Regions from separate parts of the Homo sapiens genome. Here region 1 is linked to region 2. Evidence: fine-mapped expression QTL. A gene starts in region 2. The other region holds a variant in brackets. All regions are shown on one strand. Distances are from middle to middle.

The links. PIP is the estimated chance that this variant, and not a neighbour inherited with it, causes the effect.
Region 1: its variant is fine-mapped to the expression of PLA2G4B in whole blood (TOPMed, PIP 0.90).

Annotation. Positions count from the first base shown.
Region 1 is chr15:41,922,080-41,930,398 of GRCh38, forward strand. The region is part of intron 3 of EHD4 (EH domain containing 4); the gene reads right to left. It overlaps EHD4-AS1 (EHD4 antisense RNA 1), which reads left to right. Exons shown (of 4, transcript NR_120332.1): 2 at 4,002-4,088; 3 at 6,271-6,427; 4 at 6,603-7,207. Among named protein-coding and RNA genes, the nearest start is that of EHD4-AS1, 4.8 kb to the left of the region's middle. RefSeq lists enhancers at 3,812-4,329, 5,730-5,939, 6,835-7,338, 7,301-7,380, 7,401-7,530. The variant G/A (reference allele first, on the strand shown) is at 4,093.
Region 2 is chr15:41,834,785-41,843,103 of GRCh38, forward strand. PLA2G4B (phospholipase A2 group IVB) reads left to right here and starts at 4,063. Exons shown (of 20, transcript NM_001114633.2): 1 at 4,063-4,138; 2 at 5,374-5,446; 3 at 5,740-5,876; 4 at 5,990-6,121; 5 at 6,271-6,311; 6 at 6,447-6,489; 7 at 6,733-6,787; 8 at 7,035-7,165; 9 at 7,409-7,492; 10 at 7,770-7,807. The coding sequence starts at 4,130. It overlaps JMJD7-PLA2G4B (JMJD7-PLA2G4B readthrough), which reads left to right. Exons shown (of 25, transcript NM_005090.4): 2 at 1-109; 3 at 186-439; 4 at 804-860; 5 at 1,364-1,459; 6 at 1,691-1,767; 7 at 5,374-5,446; 8 at 5,740-5,876; 9 at 5,990-6,121; 10 at 6,271-6,311; 11 at 6,447-6,489; 12 at 6,733-6,787; 13 at 7,035-7,165; 14 at 7,409-7,492; 15 at 7,770-7,807. It overlaps JMJD7 (jumonji domain containing 7), which reads left to right. Exons shown (of 8, transcript NM_001114632.2): 2 at 1-109; 3 at 186-439; 4 at 804-860; 5 at 1,364-1,459; 6 at 1,691-1,767; 7 at 1,997-2,156; 8 at 2,284-2,797. The coding sequence ends at 2,372.

The DNA of each region.
Region 1 (8,319 bases), 87 kb after region 2:
TTGGTTTGCTATTGAAAGTGATGATAAGGCTGGGCACGGTGGCTAATGCCTGTAATTCCAGCACTCTGGGAGGCAGAGGCGGGAGGATTGTTTGAGGCTAGGAGTTTGAAACCACCTGGCAATATGGTGAGACCCTGTCTCTACAAAAAATAAAAACAAATTAACTGGGTGTGGTGGCGTATGCATGTGGGCTCAGCTACTTGGGAGGCTGAGGCAGGAAGATCACTTGAGGCCAGGAGTTTGAGGCAGTGAGCCATGGACCCACCACTATACTCCAGCCTGGGTGAGAGAGTGAGACCCTGTCACAAAAACAAAACAAAACAAAACAAACAAAACCACAATTGGTAAACAATCCTCCCCTCACCCCCATTTAAGATTTCGGAATACCTCTTACTGTCGGTTCCGAAAGAAACCTGCCACCCAAACTGAAACACAGCTGCTGCTGCTAGCTGCGCTCGCGCCAACCCTGCCGTGCTTGTGCCAACCCAGCCGTGCAGATGCAGTCTCTCTTCCTCCCAGGGCCGCCTGGGTTGAATGGTTACCTTTGATTGCAACACTTGTGTTTAAACTTTAACTTAAATTTGAGTTCCTAACAGTTAATTTAAGCATCTTTAAAAAAGATGCCATTTCAATGCTATAGTGAAATCAAAAGTTATTAGGAACAGAGCTGCCAGATTTAAGTTTACTATAAGTGACGCCAATACTCATGTCTGGAGGAACAGGTACATATCCATATTTTCTTGTGTTAAAGCAACAATGAGAGCTTAATATAGTTCGAGAAGTACAGGTAGGCAGAGCTGTGTTTGTTCTGTCCCTGAGCAGGTGTAAGAGGACGGTCTGTCACACATCAGGCAACACAATCAAAGGAGTAGAAATCACCGTGTCCAAAAGAGAGCAAGGAATGATCAAAGCTGGGAGAGGTTGGTCTGCTTACCACCTCCCCCTACAAAGTTAGGATTATTTTGCTACTTTAAGCATTTTAAGTGTACTGCACAGTGGCATTAAATAAGTCACATTGTCGTACAACCACCACCACCATCCAACTGAAACTCTGAACCCATTAAGCACTAATTCTCCCCTCCTCTCTCTAGCCCCTGGCGACCACCATTCTACTTTTTGTCTCTATGAATTTGACTACTCTAGGTACTTCAGAGAAGTGTCCTTTTGTGCCCGGCTTCTTTCACTCAGCACAACGTCCTCAAGGTCCATCTGTGGTGTAGCATGTGTCAGAGTCTCTCCCTCCTCCTAAGGCTGAATAGGTCGGCTTGATTCTTGTGTCATGAAGGACTCAGGCGGCAAATACCTAGCTACCCAAAAATCCCAGCGGATCTAACTCCCAACATGTCATTTAGTCTGCCTGCTAAAGGAAAACGGTGATTCAGAAGGACCTAGAGACCACTGATCCTCAAAGCCTGTTCCTGTGTTGGAATGAAATAAGGGGCTTGCTAAAGTTTAGACTCCTAGGCCCCTCCCCAGAGCCACTGAATCAGAATCCCTGGGGCTGAGCCTGGGGATCTGCACTTGGAAGCTTCCCAGGTGATTGCAATGCATGGTGCAGTTTGAGGATCACTGTCTAGACTGAATACCAGGGTGGGGAAATTGTACAGATAGGTTTATGTTCCTGTTGGTTAGCAAGCAACAAAGCAAATCAAACACATTTAAAGTAGTATTAGTTCCTTTTATTCCAAAAAGTTACCAATAGATGTTTAGGTGGTGCATCACAGGTCGAGGAAACAGAACTGAAACATGCTTATCTGAAGACAGATTTTAAAACTCACCCAAGCTCCCTGCTTTTGCCCATGCTGGGCTATGGCCCTGGTGAACCCTTCCTCTATGGTCTAGACTGAGCCTAGAAAGCCAGCCCAAACCCTAGTCATTCTTCAAAATATCTGGGCCAACTTTGATTAAGTTAGACATTACTTAACGTTAAGCTCCAGTTTTTTTCACCTGTAAGATCGGGTTGTTGAGTGATTACCTGAGAAAATGCTTTTATCCATAAGGCATTGAGACTTTGTTAACTTTCAGCAAATTTGAGCTGTGGTTACTCTGGTTTCCTCAACTGCTCCCCATCCTGAGTTCCCTTGCCTGTGCTGCCTATGGCACCACTTCACACAGGGTATTAAAATCAGAGGGATGGGCTGGTCTCTTTCATTAGATTATATATTCTCTAACCACAGGAACTGTGTCTTCATCATGGTCACACAAGATAGTGGCGGACAATGTGGGCCTTGGACCCAGACTGCCTGGGACCTTCCTGGCTCCATCACTTACTAATTCTGCGACCTTGGGCAAATTACTTCACCTCTCTGTGCCTCGTTTCCTCATCTGTAATAACAGTGTCTTGGGGCTACCCTAGGGCTGATAATAGTATCCACAGGCCTCAGGAGCTGCAGAGTTAATATACGTGAAGCATTTAGAATCACCTTGGCACCTAGAAAGCTGTCCAAAATGCTATCTACTGGTTATTTAAAAAATCTTTGTATCCAGTGCCTGGCATACAGGGGGGATGCAAGAAATATTTGTGGGAGAAGTGACAGAAAGCAGGCAGTGGCTGCCTATGACGGGAGCCCGGCTGGTGAGTGGAACAGACAAACAGGGAGCGTCTCAGGGTGATGGAAAGTTTCTATATCTTGATGATGGCCATAGTCACACGAGTATGCAAATATGTCAAATTCACCAAACTGTACAATTAGATAGAATAGATGCATTTTTCACGCCTGTAATCCCAGCATTTTGGGAGGTCAAGGCAGGTGGATCGCCTGAGGTCAGGAGTTCGAGACCAGCCTGGCCAACTTCGCGAAACCCTGTCTCTACTAAAAATACAAAAATTAGCCAGGCTAATTTTTGGCAGATACCTGTAATCCCAGCTACTTGGGAGGCTGAGGCAGGAGAATCGCTTCAACCCAAGAGGCGGAGGCTGCAGTGAGCCGAGACTGTGCCGCTGTACTCCAGCCTGGGTGACAGCGAGGGACTGTATCTCAAAAAAAAAAAAAAAGGTGCATTTAATCATATGTTATACTTCAACAAAATTGACTTAAAAAGCAAAAGTAAATAGGAAGAAAAGAAAGAAAAATCCCAAGGCTGCTAAACTTGTTTAAAGATACACATCTCCACAAACTGCTGAATGGACCAGGAAGTTGAAATCTGTTCATCAAGGGGCTACATACCTAAGCTGGCTGTATATGGAGGTGAACGAAGCTATAGTAGAAGCCTTAAGCTTTAGAAGAAATCGGCCTTAAGAACCACTCGAAGCGGCTAACCTGCATCCTGCTTTCTGGCCAAGGTGATGAAAACCTCTCATGGTGACAGAACAGGAGTGAGAATGCTCCAAGTTTGTGAGAACTGGTTTCAGCTAGGCACAATGCAACGTGGCCTGGGGCATGGAACGATCTGGACCTATGTGTGTTTGCATGTACTAGTGTGTGTTGTGGGTGCAGGACTCAACATAATCATAGAATCATCCCACGGTGCTCAGTATATTTTCAACACTTATTCATGCAATTAATAGAAATTTCAATCCTTTAAGACCTTCCAGTGAAACTTGTATTAGTCTGGAACAAAAAAGAGATGTAATCAGTCCAGTTGTTTCAAAATATAGTTTCTTTCTTTGCCAAAGGACCCAAAAGCTACACAGCTTGGGGAACTAGGAGAAAGAATTTGTCCTGCGGAAGATCCCAGATTGGCATTCCTGGCTCCATGTTCTGGGAACAAAAGGAGGGGGCAGGAAGGAAGGAGCCCCTTCTACCCAATCAAGGGCTTCCCGTCACAGCCCCTGTGGAAACTGTGGTCCTCCATCCTGGCCAGAGAAAGAGCCACCAGGGAATGGCATAAGGGGTTAGAACAGTTGCTCCCTGGCTCAGGTAAATATAGCACGGGGGTCCCTGAGGAAGCAAATTTGGCAGTCTATTTTTAATAGAACAAGAGAAAAATAATGCTTACATTTCTTTTCAGAGCCAAGTTTCTAATTATGAGTTTTAAACAAGATGTGTGTCTATGGCCAGGTGCGGTGGCTCAGACCTGTAATCCCAGCACTTTGGGAGGCCAAGGCAAGAGGATTACTTGAGCTCAGGAGTTTGAGACCAGCCTGGGTGA[G/A]TGAGGCCCTGTCTCTACTTAAATAAAAAAAACAAAGAAAGATGTGTGTTAATGAAAGGATGCAAGGCAATGGAAGGCAGGCAGAAATGCAGCCGAGCTCCCCCTGCCATGTCCCTCCTCCCACTCCTGGGGTGGGCAGGGCCACTTGCCCGTGGTGGTGACGGAACACTGCCTAAAACTGCTCAAACCTCTCCTCTTTTCGAGGCCCTGCCCGCCCCTCCCATAGTTAGTAGCTCCAGTTCCATGTGGGCATTCCTACCACTGCCCCCAGCACTTTCTGTGTGGCTCTGTCTGTGCAACCCCAGGCTCTCCTGGCTGCATGTTCACCTTTGTGTCCCTCCAGCACCCGTGCAGTGAGCATCCAGCACGAGGCAGGCACCAAGAGTTCCTTCTTGTCCCCAGGTTCCAACCTCACTAATCTAGCCCTCAGACGATCCCCATCCCTTCTTAGAACTCAAAGATTATCTCCAAAACTGTGAGTGTCCCTGATTATGTCTAGAATAAATGTTTCCAGAACAAATTCTCCATGACTAGCCTCTGCTGCAATTCTCAACCTTTGCTCAGTCTCTTACTAAGCCCCACCCTCTCCACTGCACAAACCACACTGGGCTCTGCTGTTCCGCAGCAGCATCCTGTACTTCCCTGTCTCCACACCCTTGCTCAGGCTTTTCTTTCTGTCTGGAATGCCCTTTCCTCTTCTCCAACTACAGCCACTCATCCCTCTGGGGAACTTTCCTCCAGGTGGCCTTCCCCCACCCAGTGGAACAGAACCGCCTTTCCTGTTTCCTCCTGATGGGGTCTGTAGCAGCCTGAGAGCAGGGCCAAGTCTTCACTGTGTCTGTAACCCAAAGGCCCACTGCAGATGCCTTACACTATCAAATCAGGTTCCCGGGGATAGAGTCTTATAGCTTTAATGAATTTCCTTCATAGCACTTATACTCTGAAATGGTATATACATTTGCTGACTATAAGACAGAAATTCTGAGGGCAGAGACTCCACTCCTTATTCTATTCACCACTATACACCCAGGAATTACTACTGAGCACAGTAGGTGTTCAATACATTTGGTTTATTCCTCCAAAAACTAAAAATGGAACTATCATATCATCCAGCAATCCCACTTTGGGTATTTGTCCAAAAGAACTGAAATCAGGACTTTGAAGAGATATCTGCACACCCATGTTCACTGCAGCATTATTGGCATCATTTCTTTATCCATTCATTCATTGATGGACGCTTTATGGCAACAGCCAAGATGTAGAAATAAGAAAAGCATCCATCAGTGAATGAACGGATAGAGAAAATGTGGTGTACACATCCAATGGAATACTATTCAGCCTTAAAAAAAATTCTGCAATATGCAACAACATGGATGGCCCTTGAGGAAAAAAACATGCTAAGTGAAATAAGCCCATCACAGAAGGACAAACATACATAATTCTACTTGTATAAGATATGTAAAATAGTCAAACACACAAAATCAGAGAGGGGAACCATGACTGCCAGAGGCTGTGGGGAGAAGGAAATGGGGCTTTGCTAATCAACCAGCATAAAATTTCAGTTAGGCAAGATGAATAAGTTCTAGAGATTTGCGGAACCACACTGTGCCTATAGCCACATTGTGCTTGTAATGGATACTTAAAAATGCGTAAAGAGGGTAGATTTCGTTAAGTGTTCTTATCACAGTAAAATACAGTAAAATTGGTTTAATCAAGTGAATTCACTTGAACAAGAAATGTAACTGATTTTTAGCAATCTGGCAAGTTTAGTTGCTTAAATAGTGGTATGCGTTTCTAAAAAAGGGTTGTTACTAACTAGGGGAAGTGTAAATCATCTCAAAGTAAACATCAACTATCTGGGATCGCTCAGGTATTATAAATACACTTCGAAAAGAGTCCCTTTAGTTAATAATAACAGCCACTTCAGGGCAAGGAGTCTCTGCATTGTTTCCTGGCTGAGTTTACTTCGCAACTAGAAAAGTCTGCTTCTGAAAATGTCTTCTGAAAATGTCATTGTGGCAGAGAGCAAAATGATAGCTATAAATCAACAACTGCAGCAAATATTTACTTAGCTCTTACTACATTCCTGCACTGCCCTGTGAGCTCCATATCACTACAATCTTGTAATCCTTGCAACAATCCCATGAAGTAGGTACTTTTATTACCCCCATTTTACAGGGGAGGAAAAAAGACTCAGAGAGGTTAAGTATCCGACCCAAGGCACACAGCTGTTTCTCAGGGGAGCCCGGATTCAAACCCAGGGACTCGGATCCTAGAGCCTGTGCTTTCACCCGCTGCGCTGCACCATATGTGTACCAGGATGGTAGAATCAGAGGTGAGTGTACTTTATTTTCTCCTTTTTGATTTGTGGTTTCCTAAGTGTTCTACAATGAATATATATTATTTTTATATCAAGAAAACAAATATGCATATTGTAAAAATTATTGGCCCACTTGCATTATTATTGAGGAGGTTGTTCTTTTTCTTCTACAATGGTGCTTCTGGTGAAGGTCTGGATTCCAGCATTTCCCTGCCAGAGGCTATGGTGGGTGTGCCGAGCACCACCCTGAGGGGGAAGCAGTATCTCAGCAACTACACCCCCGAGGAAGAGGCAGTCCCCAATCAGCGGGAGCAATGGGACCTGCTGATGACAAAATAAGCCACAGAATGAATGGCTCTGCTCCACTGGCCTTCTCTCCTCCCTGCCCCCTTTTCCCCAGCTGACCAGATGCAGGGCAGTGGCAGGGAGGGGCTGATACCAAACCCGGTCTGGGAGACTGCCCGGAGGGAACACAGGTTCCCAAGCTCCTTTTGGAGAGGCTGGATGTGAGTTCACCTCGAACCTTTCAGCTGGTAATGGCCACCTCTTGGAGAATGTAACTGGTTACCAGAAAACCCCAGAGGTTGTCTCCCAGTACCTAGCCTAAAGTGGGTGTGGCCACAGAACCTACCAAAATTTAAATAAAAGCAAGAACTAGGCGTGTCCAGGGATGGCGTTGTGCTGTTTATCCGCTCTCTGCTCTTCCCACTCCTCCTTCCTTTGGGATTTTGTCCAAGACTCTGTAAATTAATTTTTCTGTGCCTGTTTCCTCATAAAATAAACAAGCTAACCTCACAGCCTGTCCCTCCTTCCTCTGGGGGATATGTGACAATAACAGATGGGTGAGCCACATGTCCCTGAAGGCCCCTCCAGGGCAAGGGCGGGAGAGCCCCACATCACAGGTTCGTGCCACGCCACAGACATGGGAACAGAGGAAGGTTCCACGCCAGTACTCGGCCCACTGAACGCTGCTGCTTCTGGGCATGTGACCAAGTGAAAGGGAAAATTGGGTTTCGCATCTCACTTTCCATCTCAGATTAAATACCAGATGAAGAAGCAGGCCCATTTAAAGAAGGCTGAGCCCTGGAGAAAGACAGCAACATGGTATTATCAGTCATTTTAGGCTCTTTGCTGGAGAGGGAAGTTGGTAAAAAAACCTACCAAGAAAATCCTGTAAGTCCTGGAGCCTGGCTTAACAATTTCATTCTGCTGGGCCTCAGTTTCTATACCTGTGAGTCAGATGATCAAAAAGGATTCTTTCTAGATCTTAAATTTTAGCTATATAGGGTGGTTCCAAACAGTAAGCTTCTTTGAAATAAAAAGCCAGATTCCCAGGAAAATCGATTTAGCTCAGCGTCTGTATAGTACAGACACGAACTAGTTACAGTGCCAGCCTAAGATGACCCTTCAGATGGCTACAGTAGACCCTTCAGATGGCTACAGGAATACTGAATGAACAACTCTAAATGACACAATTATCAAACAGTAAGTTTCATTTTATTACATCCCTTCTACTGGATTCATGTGCTATATAGCATTTGGGCCAATTTGAAGGTCCTTGAATGTTTCTATAGGTGTAATTAGTTGCCCCAAAGTTTAACTTATTGTCATCCAATTCCAAACAACTCTATACTGAAAGAAACTATCTGAGGAAGGGTTGTGGAATGTATGACTTCCAAGGATGCTTAAGAAGTCACCCCATCTAACCTTCTGATATTATTATATATTAGGATGAACAGATCCAGGAATCCCGTGTCACGCACATGGAAATTGTCCATTCCTCATTTTTCAAGTGGGCTTTGTGTATAAGTCAGGCTAGAAAGTCTCATACAATATGTCTATAAATCAGACGGAGTTGGCGTGGCAAACATTACTTGCACTGAATTTTCTTGAGGCAAAATGCCAAC
Region 2 (8,319 bases):
CTCCGCTCCACTTCTACCGGGACTGGGTCTGCCCCAACAGGCCGTGCATTATCCGCAACGCTCTGCAGCACTGGCCGGCCCTCCAGAAGTGGTCCCTCCCCTATTTCAGGTGGGAGCTGCCCTGGGGTCAGGTGTGAGCAGTGATTACTGGCATCTGGGCATGGGCTGAGTGTCCATTCCTCTAGAGCCACAGTGGGCTCCACAGAGGTGAGTGTGGCCGTGACCCCAGATGGTTACGCGGATGCCGTGAGAGGGGATCGCTTCATGATGCCAGCTGAGCGCCGCCTGCCCCTGAGCTTCGTGCTGGATGTGCTGGAGGGCCGGGCCCAGCACCCTGGAGTCCTCTATGTGCAGAAGCAGTGCTCCAACCTGCCCAGCGAGCTGCCCCAGCTGCTGCCTGATCTGGAATCCCATGTGCCCTGGGCCTCCGAAGCCCTGGGTGAGTGGAGGTGGGGTGGTCGTGGCCCTGGACAGGGAAGATATGGGAAGGAGGGGGGTCAGCCTGTTTGCCCTTAGGTGATGACCTGGCCTATGGGCTTGGTCCTGTCAGCATCTGGTGCAGCTCACTAAATACATTCCCAGGCCTTGACTTAATCATAGATGAATTGCCAAAGATTGTTGTCCTTCCTTCTGCCCCAGGGAGGGAGGACCCCTTCCCCAAGATTTCCCAACCTCTGCCTCTTCTCCCTGACCCCTTTCTTGGGATTCTTCTGTGCTCACCCAGGTTTTGGCTCTGGCATCACTGGATGGCAGCTTTCCCCAGCCTGGCCTTCCTAACTTGCTCTCTGCCTTCTGCCCTGCAGGAAAGATGCCCGATGCTGTGAACTTCTGGCTGGGGGAGGCGGCTGCAGTGACTTCTTGTAGGTGTAAGGGGAATACAAAGGTGGGGAAGGAGCAGGTTGGGGCAGAGGGAGGGAAGACGAGGCCAGGAGTGGAGGGATGGCCCTGGGTGGAGGTTGGGCTGTTCTCTAAGATTTCTTTTGGCTTCTAGGACTCGGGCACCACAGAGGGTTTCCCCTGACAGCTGAGGTCGGGGAATGGACCCATGGCATTGGGGGCGGGTGCATTGTTTCTTCTAGACCCAAAGAAACCTCCCTGAAGGCCCGCTGGGCCAGGGGGTAAGTGTAGGAGAACTTCCCCTCTTGTTGAAGAGGAGTCCAGGGCCTGGTGAGCATCAGGTCCCTGGTAGGCAGAGTTCCAGAATGCCCATCAGAGCCCCTGGCATCTCCAGCCCACTGGCTCTGTGCGTGCTTCTCTTTTGTCATAGGACGTCTTGGGGTGCAGGGCTCTCAGCATGATGGTTTGCCTCCTCCCGTGCCCCTGCCCTCCATACCCTGCCCCCGGGCCTTCTTTCTGTTGGCAGTGCACAAGGACCACTATGAGAACCTCTACTGCGTGGTCTCAGGAGAGAAGCATTTCCTGTTCCATCCGCCCAGCGACCGGCCCTTCATCCCCTATGGTAGGGGATGTGGCCTGCAGGGAGGGGCTGGGGAACAGCTGGCCCAAGGGGGAGGGAGGCAGCAAGAGCCTGGGAGGCCAGTTCCCAGGCCTGAGGTGTGGCTGTGGCATCCCCAGTGCACCAGGGCCCCTGATCCCCTTGCCCCTGCCCAGGGCTGGCTGGGGTGGAGGAGGGTCTGGCAAGTTCCAGGCTGTTTGCAATTCCCCCACACCCTTCTCCCTTGGGCTCCAGAGCTGTACACGCCGGCAACCTACCAGCTAACTGAAGAGGGCACCTTTAAGGTGGTGGATGAAGAGGCCATGGAGAAGGTGTCTGTCCTGTTCTTGGGCTCTAGGGAGGGAGAAGGGCAGAAGCCTGGCTCTGAAGAACAGGCACAAAAGATCTGGGGAGGTGGCACCTTGCTCTGAAAAGTCTCTAAGTCTGAGGCCTTTCACTGCTGAGCCAAGCAGGGCCTGTGGTGTTGACCTTTGGAAGGGACAGAGCCTGAAGTCCTGGGGGGTCTGGGGGGCTGCTCCCTGGCATCTGATGTGTTCCCAGGTGCCCTGGATCCCACTGGACCCCTTGGCGCCAGACCTAGCACGGTACCCTAGTTACAGTCAGGCCCAGGCCCTTCGCTGCACGGTGCGGGCCGGTGAGATGCTCTATCTGCCGGCTCTGTGGTTCCACCACGTCCAGCAGTCCCAGGGCTGCATCGCAGGTGAAGAGTTGCCCAGGCCGCCTGGGGAGAGGCCCTGTCAAGGTCCAGCAGGGCCTCTGGGGGGAGGCTTGGGAGGCTCTAGGTCAGAAGAGGGATCTTCATGCTCAGATCCCCGTTCTTCCCACAGTGAATTTCTGGTATGACATGGAATACGACCTCAAGTATAGTTACTTCCAGCTGCTCGACTCCCTCACCAAGGCTTCAGGCCTTGACTGATGGAGCACTGGTGAACACCACCAAGCACGCCTCGGGGGACGGAGCCAGCCCCTCCCTGGCCAGGTCAATTCTCGAGAGAGCCTGGAGTGTGCATGCTGGCTGCTGGCCCCGGGTCCAGCATGGCTTGAGATCAGCTTTGGAGGATCTTGGAATGTGGTCATAAGGACTCAAGGTGCCAGGCAGGTCTGGGTGAGGGTTCTCAGGAAGTTGCCACACAGGTGAGCAGAGTGGGGATCAGGTGCAGCGGCACCTCTCCCCAGCGCTGTGATGTTGGGCGAGTCACTGCGTCTCGGGCATTGGTGTCCTGTCAGTAAAGAGATAATAATGGCTGTACCTCGCGGGGCTGTTGTGGGCTTGGAGATGATGTCTATGAGGACCAGCATGGAGCTGGCACACAGGACATGTTGAATAAAAGGTAGCTGTGAGTCGTATGTCCTTTTTTTTTTTTTTTTAAGATGGGGTCTCGCTCTGTCACCCAGGCTGGAGTGCAGTGGTGTGATGTCAGCTCACTGCAAGCTCCGCCTCCCAGGTTCACACTATTCTGCCTCAGCCTCCCAAGTAGCTGGGACTACAGGTGCGTGCCACCATGCCCGGCTAATTTTTTTGTATTTTTAGTAGAGACGGGGTTTCACCGTGTTAGCCAGTATGGTCTTGATCTCCTGACCTCGTGATCCACCTGCCTCGGCCTCCCAAAAGTGCTGGGATTACAGGTGTGAGCTGCTGCGCCTGGCTTATGAGTCGTATGTTCTGATCCTCCCTCTTGAAGTTGCCTTCTGTGGTCTAAGGAGGGCCTGAAGGTTCAGGTAAAAACTTCAGGGTGACCTTCACTGGGGGTGAGGGCTGGATCCCAGCCTGGGCCCAAAGAGCCGTCAGCTGCCCAAGTCCCGCTGTCCATGAGAGTCACCGCAGCCCCTCCCTGGGACAAGCAAGCAGACCTGAGTCTTGTAGCTCTCTGGTCCGGACCTCTTTGCCCAGGACCTTGAGAGCTATTCCTAGCTCTCCTATGGTTACTGTCCTCCCCCAGTTCAGGGGCAGCAGGTGGGACCTGGTGCCCTGGGGATAACCCCTGTTTCTCCCATAACAGGCACAGGCAGGAAGGGACGGAAGCCCCCGCCTCTCCTGGGGCTGTCCCTCTGAGGAAAGAGTTGGTCTCCACACGCTGACCCCCCCACAAACCATGCCCTGGAGGCAGAAGAACCCCCTGCCCCTGAGTGCCAACCCACAGGCCTCATCCCTGGCCACTCAGCACCTAGCTTTGAAGGGCTGTTTTATGTGACAGCCACTCCCCTGCCTGTCGTGAGGGGGCCCGGGTGTTCATCTCAGATTGATGGATCCCTGCCATCAAGACTGGGCATTCCTGTCCAACAGGTGCCAGAGTTGCGAAAGGCCTGTGACAGGGAACTCCACTCTTCCCTTGGCTGCTGTTCTGGGACTCACCCCTGCTTTCCTTCTGCTCAGCCCCTGGCAGCAAGCTCTCCAGGCTGGGATTGCAGGGCTGGGTGGGGCAGGCCCAGCTGGTAAAGGCTGGCGAGTGCCACAGAGGTATCAGGAGCTCTAGTATAGGCTTAGGGTGCCTCATTTCCTGGACAGGTGGCTGGTTCAGGAGTGGGTGTGGAGCTTAGGTGGAGCAGAGGCGGCGGGTAGGAGGGACTTGGGACCAATTGGGACATCACATCCCTGGCTCTGGGTTAGAAAGCTGACAGTCCTTGATCCTGTGGCCACTGCCCCATCATTCCTGCTCCTGAGGACTCAGTCTCATGGCTGTGGTAAGGCCTGGCAGGGCCCTGGGTCCCTACTGGGACCCCTGGTCTCTACCTGGGGCCTAGTTAATATGTTTCTTATGGGAGCTGTGGTCTTCTCCAGGGGTAGGGAGGGGAGTTTATTGACCACAAGACCAGGGTAGCGGGCAGAAGCCAGGGGAGGAGGAGGCTTGGGGATGAGGGATCCGTCCTGAGTGTTTTCTGTCCTGGGAACGGGCTCCTGGCAGAGCTCCCTGGCACCACAGATTTGGGCCCTGGAGACTCAGAGGCTCCCAGCTGCCGCCCTGAGGCCCTGGAAGCAAGTGGCTCCTCCATGCTCCTCTGACTCAGTTGCCTGGAGTGTGAGGGCCCTGGGCTGACCCTGGTGGATGAGGCCCTCCAGCACTGCCCTGGACCTGGTTGCTCCCTGGACTTGACCTGTTAGGGTCCTTGTGGAGGCAGGTGGAAGGCCGAAAGGAAGCAGTTGGCACAGGCTTCCCTGGTCCCGGTGCGCCTGCCAGGCTGCATTCCCAGAACCAGGGGCATGGGTTTGGAGGGAGCTACCGGGGGACCATCTTCAGCCTGACCTGGCAGGACCTGGAGGACATGACAGCCTGTGAGGGGTCTGAGCTAGGAGCCGCCTCCCCTGCCCAGGAGAGAGCCCATTTCCAGGATGCTCTTCTGACCAGGGTGGAGGGAGGGTACGAGAGCAGCTCAGCCTGGGGCCCAAGGCCCTGATGTGCTACTTCCCCTCCCTCGATAGCTTATGTCCCCTGCCACCCAAGACCAGCCGGAAAGCTGCTTAGCTGGGGTGTGGGCTGGGGATGTGGGGTGGAGAGCCTAAAGGATACTAGCCCGAGAAGGTGGAAGCAGGTCTGTGTGAGGCATAAATCTGGAGCCAGCCTGCCCGGGCTCCAACCCCAATTGTGGACCTCAGGCAAGTGACTGCTTCTCTGTGCCTCAGTTTCCTTGTGGAGTGGGCCATCGTAAATAGTATCTGTGCATAAGGTGGTTGTGCGATAAATGAGTTAATGTATGCAAAGCCCTTGGCCCAGAGCCGGCGCAGAGCATTGTGTAAGTGCTGGCAGGCGTCATGATGGAGATATCATGTCTCCTCTTGTTGATTCAGGATTCTGATGAGATGGAGGATGGGCCTGGGGTTCAGGATTAGGCCTTGAGGCACTGCTCCAGCCTCCTTTGTGGCCCCTGTCACCCTTGGCTTCATCGGCCCGTAGCAGGTCTCCCCTCTCCCACCTCTGCAGGCAGAGGTGTCCAGGACCTGCCTGCTCACGGTTCGTGTCCTGCAGGCCCATCGCCTACCCTCTAAGGACCTAGGTGAGTGCGCACCGCCCTGGCCCCTGTGCTGGGCTGAGGGAGGAGGAGGGTGCTGAGGAGGAGGGTGCTGTGGCTGGATTTGGTGGAGGCGGGTGGGCCGGTGGGCAGGGCCTAGAGGAGGGAGCTGAGAGGAGCTTCTGGGTGGAAGGTGGCAGCTGGGGCTCTGCCTCTGGCCCCCACTTCCCCTCCCCCTCAGTCTTAACCCACATGGGGCTCTAGGTGATGGAAGGAAGTGGGTCTGGGCGGCTGGGAAGGGCTCTTGTCCACCGCTGGGCACTTGTTCCTTCCCGCAGTGACCCCCTCTGACTGCTACGTGACTCTCTGGCTGCCCACGGCCTGCAGCCACAGGCTCCAGACACGCACGGTCAAGAACAGCAGTAGCCCTGTCTGGAACCAGAGCTTTCACTTCAGGATCCACAGGCAGCTCAAGGTGGGCCAGGCATCAGCGCTGACTCTACCCACATCCTCGCCAGCCACTGCCGCTGCCCTGCTCACCTTTCTGTCCCCTCCCTCCTGCAGCCCTGTCACTCTTTTCCCCTCCAGAATGTCATGGAACTGAAAGTCTTTGACCAGGACCTGGTGACCGGAGATGACCCTGTGTTGTCAGTACTGTTTGATGCGGGGACTCTGCGGGCTGGGGAGTTCCGGCGCGAGAGCTTCTCACTGAGCCCTCAGGCAAGGCGGTGTTTCCACGGCAGCCCTAGCTGGTGTCTGGGTTGAAATCTCCACGCGCACACATGCACACACACGCATGTCTCTCATACTCACTGACATATGTGCACTCCTTCTGACCCTTTCTAACTTACTTCTGGCTCTCTTCCCAGGGTGAGGGGCGCCTGGAAGTTGAATTTCGCCTGCAGAGTCTGTGAGTCAGGGGCCTGGGGCAGTTTGGGTGGGAGTGCCTTGTGGGAAGGACAGCACTAGTGCCTGGGGGATGCCCAGGTCTCTGTGGGGTGGGAACCTGGACTCCTGCTAAGGGGGCTCTGGGGGCTCTTTCCAGGGCTGACCGTGGCGAGTGGCTCGTCAGCAATGGCGTTCTGGTGGTGAGTGTGCCAGTGCTCTGGGAGGCGGTCTGGGGTCCCCGGGACTCCCTCATGCCAGCGACTTGAGGTACAGGCCCACCGCTGCCTCAGCCTGGGGACCCTGGGATTTCAGTTTGTTAAGGGAATACAATCTCAAGGGCCCAGGTAATGAAGTGCAGACCAGCAGCAGCCAGGGTGCTGCGAGGGTGGGGTCCCTGAATGGGGGGTGGGGTTAGTGTCTGAGGGGCTGTCTTCATGACTCAGGCCCGGGAGCTCTCCTGCTTGCACGTTCAACTGGAGGAGACAGGAGACCAGAAGTGTGAGTCCCCAACCCACTGGGACAGCCCCTGGCTCTCAGCTCTTGTCTTCCCCCTTTAAGCATTGGACAATTCTCCTTGGGGCCTGAGCTTTCCCCTTAGGCCTTCTCGGGGGACTGTGGTGGGGGATCCATCTCCACCAGACCATTTCAGCGGGGAGAGGGAGGTGCCCTCCAGGCCACGCAGCAAGATGGGTTCTGTGGGCAGAGATACCGTCCCCAGCCTCTCTGCTCTGGTTCCTGTTTCCAGCCTCAGAGCACAGAGTTCAGCTTGTGGTTCCTGGGTCCTGTGAGGGTCCGCAGGAGGCCTCTGTGGGCACTGGCACCTTCCGCTTCCACTGCCCAGCCTGCTGGGAGCAGGAGCTGAGTATTCGCCTGCAGGTAGTGTGCCTCGCTCCCTCGAGGTGGGGCCCCCAGAACTTCCTCCCTCCCTCTGCACCTCCTCCCAGTCTGACCTCTGCTCCACCTGGCAGAGTGGGCACCCTGGCAGCATGTGTGGGCCCATGCTGGCCTCCCCTTCCCGTCCCTCCCATAACTCTATGGCTGCCGGCGGGAGTTTGGTGAGGTCTTTGCTAGGAGTGGAAGCGTAAAGATTCTTAGGTCTGCATTCTTTGTCCCCTGCAGGATGCCCCCGAGGAGCAACTAAAGGCGCCACTGAGTGCCCTGCCCTCTGGTCAAGTGGTGAGGCTTGTCTTCCCCACGTCCCAGGTACTGGCCTCCCAGGGAAGGAAGCAAGGCGCCTGGATGGGGCTGGGACCCAGGCCACAAAGGGAGGGGCCTGCTTCCCGCTTCTCCGTGGGTCACACCCTGAGCAGGTGCTGGGGCCAGGCTCTTTGGGGAGTGTCCTCTGAGCATCCCTGCTTCAGGCCTGGCGCCTGTGGAGACGGTGGCGGGGCGGGGGTGGTGCGCCGGGGATCAGGGTAAGAGGACCAGAGCTGGGTGGAGGTGGCCGACCTTTTGTGACTGGGGCCTTCACGGTTTTCAGGAGCCCCTGATGAGAGTGGAGCTGAAAAAAGAAGCAGGGTGAGAGGCCTGGCTGGGGACTGGGCAAGGCCCTGGAAAACAACCAGGGTGCGGGGCTGGAGGAGGCCTGGAGGAGTGAGGGGGAGAAACAGCCGCCCCTCATCCTCATGCTCTCTGAAGGGGCTCAGGCTTGCGCTCGAGGGGGCACGAAGTACTGGGAGGAGTACTGGGAGGAGTCTTAGCACCTATGGTCAGAGGGGCGAGTGACCGGCCCAGTGCCAGGCACCCGGGGAGCACTTGATAAATGTTTGGCTGGAAAACGCAGGGAGGCAAGGATGGAAAATGGTAACATGGTTTGGGGCGCAGAGAGGGCAGGAAAACCAAGGGAGAGAAGAGGGGAAATTGCGCCCTTTTGGGTGGAAGCTGTTATGGCTGGACCTTAAATGATCTTCGTAGAGTTGTCGCCCACCCTGGCCCTCTGTCTTGAGAGAGTGGCTTCTCACCTCACAGACACAGGATTATTGGTCCTTTTCTGCCCCGCCCCCTGCCCTTTTTTTTTTTTTTTTTGAGAT